Linked DNA regions of Homo sapiens: region 1 is linked to region 2. Evidence: fine-mapped QTL for protein levels in blood plasma. Region 2 holds a variant in brackets. A gene starts in the other region. All regions are shown on one strand. Distances are between the middles of the regions.

The links. PIP is the chance, under the fine-mapping model, that this variant and not a neighbour inherited with it causes the effect. The UK Biobank Pharma Proteomics Project read protein levels with antibody pairs (Olink). The fine-mapping took linkage between variants from a reference panel, not from the people measured, so its PIPs are less certain.
Region 1: it holds the start of ERBB4, and the variant in region 2 is fine-mapped to the plasma level of the ERBB4 protein (UK Biobank, PIP 0.96).

The regions. Positions count from the first base shown.
Region 1 is chr2:212,537,502-212,540,348 of GRCh38, reverse strand. It overlaps ERBB4 (erb-b2 receptor tyrosine kinase 4), which reads left to right and starts at 1,547. Exons shown (of 28, transcript NM_005235.3): 1 at 1,547-1,900. The coding sequence starts at 1,819. RefSeq lists an enhancer at 2,516-2,847.
Region 2 is chr2:9,520,060-9,522,971 of GRCh38, reverse strand. ADAM17 (ADAM metallopeptidase domain 17) reads left to right here. Exons shown (of 19, transcript NM_003183.6): 8 at 1,656-1,769. Among named protein-coding and RNA genes, the nearest start is that of ADAM17, 34 kb to the left of the region's middle. The variant T/C (reference allele first, on the strand shown) is at 1,651.

The sequences.
Region 1 (2,847 bases), 200 Mb before region 2:
TGATACTTTTTATTTATATATTTGCTGCTTCTAGAAAAACCAAAAAAGGAAAGTGATTCATACATAGAATGCCTGTACAAATAGCAAACCAATAACTACCCCCAGCAGATTCTGGCCCTTGCCAGGGTGCGGTTTCAGAGCTGTAAAAGGCAAGGGATATGTACATTGAAATGACCCAGTCCCAGAATATTTTAGATTCAGAAAAGGTCAGAGACTTTCGTAACTAGCAATGACCTCCAGATTAGGGACCATGAATGTGCAGAGTGAGGACAAGGAAGGGGCCTAAAGCTGGGTCTACTGTAGAATAAACAGAATCATTTAAGGTTAATTATGTTCTGATGTGGCCTCCTTAAATTCTTTCAGGCTGGGGACAATTTCTAGCCCTTTAAGATCAAATCAGTGGCTTTGGACTAGAATCTGCTTAATAAGAATGAACTCCAAAGGTGAAAAAAAAACATAAAATCTAAAAATCAAAGGATATGCCTTTATAAATGTGAAAGTTTAGTTTGGCTCAATGTTGGTCAGTTTAGAAATGTGGGAGTAATCGGAGAGATGGCATAACTGGGGGCGGGAGGCGGGGCGGTGATTATACCCCTACCACTACCTAATCCTCAGGGGCTACCAGTTACTTGCTGTACACACTTTTAAAGTACTTTCTAATTGTGGACCATGAGTGGCAGAGTACTGCGGGCGGAGGCTTTTTGCTGAAAGCAACATTGACTTTTATTTCTAGGGAAAGTCTTGTCTGTAGATGAGCACCGTGGGGCAACGGAGAAAATGCTGACTTTCTTGTTTAAAAAAAAAAAAAATTTCCGTAAGCGGCCCTCCAATGGTCCGTCCACTCAGCAGGCCAGCTGTCCCAGGCCTCTGCCAGGGAGGGAAGACGAGTGCTTCAGTGCATGGCTTCGGTGAGCCCTTTAAATCCAGCTTCCCCTGCCCCCACCAAGAGGCTCCCTTTCCCTGACAGGTGTTTTCCCAACTCCGGAGGCCCAGGATTTTGGGGAGTGGCTGAGCCAATAAGATTTCCCTTTGGAAGGGGGGGGGAAGGGCGTGGCTAGTTGGGTCAGAGCATGGGCGGGGTTTGCGCGGCTGAGCAGAGCCGGCCTGGTTGCGTGGAGGGTTGTTTTATTCCCACCGCCCCCCGCACCTTTTTTTTTTTTTTTTCTGGAGTCTTATTAATTTCTCTGTGGGCTGCAGCTGGAGACCGCGGAGCGCTGGAAATGACGCTCGGAGCTTTAATTACCGCAGCCGCCGGACAAGTGTGAGGAAAGCTGAGAGGAAAAAGAAGGACGGGATCCGGGGAGAAGCGAGAAGCTCCCCCCGCCCCGCTCCCCTCCCGATTTGGACTGGAGGTGCAAGGAAACTGAAGAAGGAGCAGAACATAGCCCGGCTGCGGGGAGAGGCCGGAAACCTACCGCCTCTTTGCAATCAACTTTTTTTGGAAACCTTTCGCCCCCCTTCCTTTTTTATTGTTGACCAACCAGTGAGAGAGAGAGAAAGTGAGGAGGGAGCGAGCAAGCGAAGGCTCACGCGGGGAAATAGCTGCACAGTCCGGCCCAGAGCGCCAAGCGCACACACCGAGCACACTCCCACACGCGCACACACGCGCTCACACTCGCCCCCTCCTCGGGCCCCGGCCCTGGACCCGCGGGCGCGGACTCGGTCGCCCGCCCTGGGAGTCGCCACACCGCGCGCGCCGCGCCCGCCCCCCTCGCACCCCCACGCGCGCCCGGCTGGGGGATCTCCTCCGCGTGCCCGAAAGGGGGATATGCCATTTGGACATGTAATTGTCAGCACGGGATCTGAGACTTCCAAAAAATGAAGCCGGCGACAGGACTTTGGGTCTGGGTGAGCCTTCTCGTGGCGGCGGGGACCGTCCAGCCCAGCGATTCTCAGTCAGGTGGGTTCCTTCTGGCACTCCGGTCGCCGAACCTGCAGCCGCCGGCGGGGCTGCCTCGAGTGGCTCCCCTGCCCTCTTCACCCATCCCGGGAGGCGTGGAGGGACCGCTTGACCGGGGCCTCTTCCCTGGGCTTTCGGTCACCCCTCTTTCCATTTGAAACTTACCCTGTATGTGTGCGTTTGCTTTATTTATCGTGAAAAATCACTCTGAGTCCCTCTTTTCTCTCCTTAACCCCCTGCTTTTCTTTCCCGAGCGTTTTGTTTGGGAGCCTAAGCGGGATCCCTTCTGGTGGCGCCTGTTGTTCGGGACATGGGAGACCCAAATCCCCAGTCAGAGGAGACTCTTCTGTCCCTGTCGGGTCCCCGAGGGCAGAACCCGCACCGCCGGGGCCGCGGTCCTGGGGCGGTGCTGGCTGGGCCTCTCCCGAGCCGAGCCCGAAGGGCGGTGGAGAGCGGCGCTCAGAAAATCGGGCTTTGCACCTGTGTGTGCTGCTGGCGACCGCTGCGCCCCCAGTCGCCCGAGCCTTGTGGCGTCAGACGCAACTCGCGCCCAGCCCGGGCAGCCGGAGTGCAGCAGGCGGGCGCGCCTCGGTCCGGGGCCCGGAGTTCTGGGCCTCTTCCGCCGGCTTCCCGGAGCCCTCTCCCCATTGACTTGAGGGGCGCTTACTCGCCTGCCTGACCTCTTAAAAAAAAAAAAAAAGGCTTGGCACACTTGAGCCAGAAGCCCGGCCTTCCCGTCGGTTGCCGTGTTTGGCTCCGGGAAGAGTTCTTCCTGTAGTTCAACTTGCTATTGGCCGGAGTCCTTCAAACTTGTCTGTTTACTGCCCGGCCAGGCTGCCGAGCCTGCGGGTCACTGGATCCACCCGAGGCGAAAGCGGCAGCGGCGATGGGTGCGCGGCCACTGCTTGCTGGAGAGCTCGAGCCCCAGGTACCTGGGCAGGCAAAGG
Region 2 (2,912 bases):
TTCTTCCCCCCTCCGATTATGCTTAAGTCTTTAGTTAAAACTCTGGCATGCACCATTGAATCCTTAGTCAGAAAATTTACTAAAAAATACTGTGTACCTTTGCAAGGCTGTATTTATATATACAGAACCTTTAGGTTCTTTCCTCTCAGATATCTCCTTCTGATTTCTTGTAATCTGTTAACAGAGTGTGTCTAGTAATGTTATATTAATGTCATCTTAATAATAGCTCATATTAAAAGTTATTTCAAATTGCTAGGACTAATTAAAAAGGCTTCTGACAAAGGGTATTGCTTTGGGCAGAGAGACATTTTGATATGTAAATTATATAAATTGTTATCTCTATTTTTTTCCAAGCTTTTTGTAGTAAACCATATTTTTATAAGTTATATAGTATAGAATTTAGAGGTTGAAAAAATTTTTAAAAATCATTCACCATGTTTATAAATGTTAAACTTTGATATTACTTGTATAAAACTAAGAGAATTATTTTTCCCTTTTCATTCTCTTTCACTGTTACGCATTTTCTTTTTAAGTTATTATTTGAATAGGTAACATGTACACAGTACAAAAGCCAGTGAAAAGTAAGTCTCTGCAGCCTGTTTATTGTCAAACCAGTTCCTTTCCCCAAAGACATTCATGTCACTAGTTTCATATGTATCTTTCTAGAGATGTCGTATGCAGGTATAGTGTATGTATATGTCTGTATTTGACACAACGGTGCTATGCAGTACACTTTTACACCTTGCTTTTTCATTTCACAGTATGTTGGAGAGTACTTCATGTTCATGCATGTAAAGCTGCTTCACTTGTTTTATTATAAATAGCTGCATCATGTTTGAGTTTCAGGGAACCTGTAAATTTTCTTTTTGCTTTAGGCATTTGGAACCAGTCGAAGAAACAGGAATAATATAGGAGATTAAAACATTAACTTCTTTACATCTGATGAAGGATGGATTGGAGGGTGTGGTTTAGATGTGTATCATGGTGGGCTTCTAAGTAGTTCTATCCCAGATTTGACCTTGACCAGCCACCATCAAAACTGCAGAGTCCACCCCAGTAAACTTACCACACAGTGGCAGAGGAGACCAGAATGGGCCTTCTCTGCAGGCAGGCAGGCAGGCAGGCAGGCAGAGAGACTCACAGAAACTCTGAGCTGAGCATGGTTTCCTTCTTTATCTCACACTTACTAATGGGAGCCTTTGTTACTTTTTTTTTTCTTCTTTGCAGGTTTAATATGAATTTGTCTGAAATGCCTGTATAAGGAGAAGACTCTATTCTTAGCCTTTTATTCCTTTGATGCACAAAGAGATGTATATTTTATTATTCTTTCCTGAGTTGTCGACTGTAGTCGTAATAAATATTTTAGGCTCCTGTAACCCAAGTTCTTATTTTTTCAAAATAAACATGGAGGATATGAAAATTTAAGAGTACATTTATAATATTATAAATAATTCATTGACATATGTTTTCCATACCATATGCTTCTCTGTTTGTTTCAAACATTGAATATTGGTACTGAAGAATTTATGAATTTTGGTTTTAAAATGTTTTTTTTCTAGAACGATTCTTTTTTTGAACAGATAAAATAATGCAGTATTCAGAGCCTTCTGACTTATTTTGGAAGTGTTCTAAGTATATGATCTCTTTAAG[T/C]ATAGATTCGCATTCTCAAGTCTCCACAAGAGGTAAAACCTGGTGAAAAGCACTACAACATGGCAAAAAGTTACCCAAATGAAGAAAAGGATGCTTGGGATGTGAAGATGTTGCTAGAGGTAGGTCTTAGAATCCTGGATATGGTGCTAACACCACTTTGTCATTTCTGATATGTGGATTGTATGTGTTTTAATGAAGGAGCATGTTAGAAAAGATGGACACCCAGAAGCAGTCTCCTCCAGCTGATCCAGCAGTAACCCCATCCCATGTAGCAGCATAGACAACAAATAACAAAAACTCTATGAAAAAGAAAAACGCTATAAAGCAATGCTTCCTTTTTTTTTTTTTTTTTTTTTTGAGACAGAGTTTCACTCTTGTTGCCCTGGCTGGAGGGCAATGGCGTGATCTTGGCTCACCGCAACCTCCATCTCCCAGGTTCAAGAGATTCTCCTGCCTCAGCCTCCCAAGTAGCTAGGATTATAGGCATGCACCACCACGGCCGGCTAATTTTTGTATTTTTAGTAGAGACAGGGTTTCTCCATGTTGGTCAGGCTGGTCTTGAACTCCCGACCTCAGATGATCCGTCTGCCTCGGCCTCCCAAAGTGCTGGGATTACAAGTGTGAGCCACCATGCCCGGCCAAAGCAGTGCGTCTTAACCTTAATATCTTTGAGGATCTAATGAGACAATCAGTGGATCTTCTCTAGAAAATAACATGGATACCCAATATATAGAGTTTTTGCACACTGTTTCATTAGTTCTGCACACTTAGTTCAGCTCTCTCTGAAGCTTATCAATTTATCTTTTAGGGCAGTAATTATCAAACAGGTTATGAACATGTATTGGAGAGTAGAAATATAGCTTGGAGATCTGAAAGTTCTCTACAGGAATTTAAAATTTTTGTGTTTTTATTCTGGCGATTAATCTAAAGATGGCTAACTTAATCATTTTATGTCATTTGGAGTCTTGCCGTATAACAGGGTGCTGCCATGTGATTCCAGTGTCTTGAGTTTGTGTGTGCTATTACTTTGGTGTAGAATGACTTTATATGAAGCGATAGTTTTTATCTTTTAATGTGTTGGCAAGTTTATTAGTTTCTTGTTGTTGCTTTAATTATCACAAGTGGAGCAGCTTAGAACAACACTTATTTATCCCATAGTTTGCATGGGCTAGTCCAGGTATGGTGTGGCTCATCTGGATTCTTGTTTAGGGTCTCATGAGGCTGAAATCAAGTTTTCAAAGCTTCAATAGAATTAAAGGATA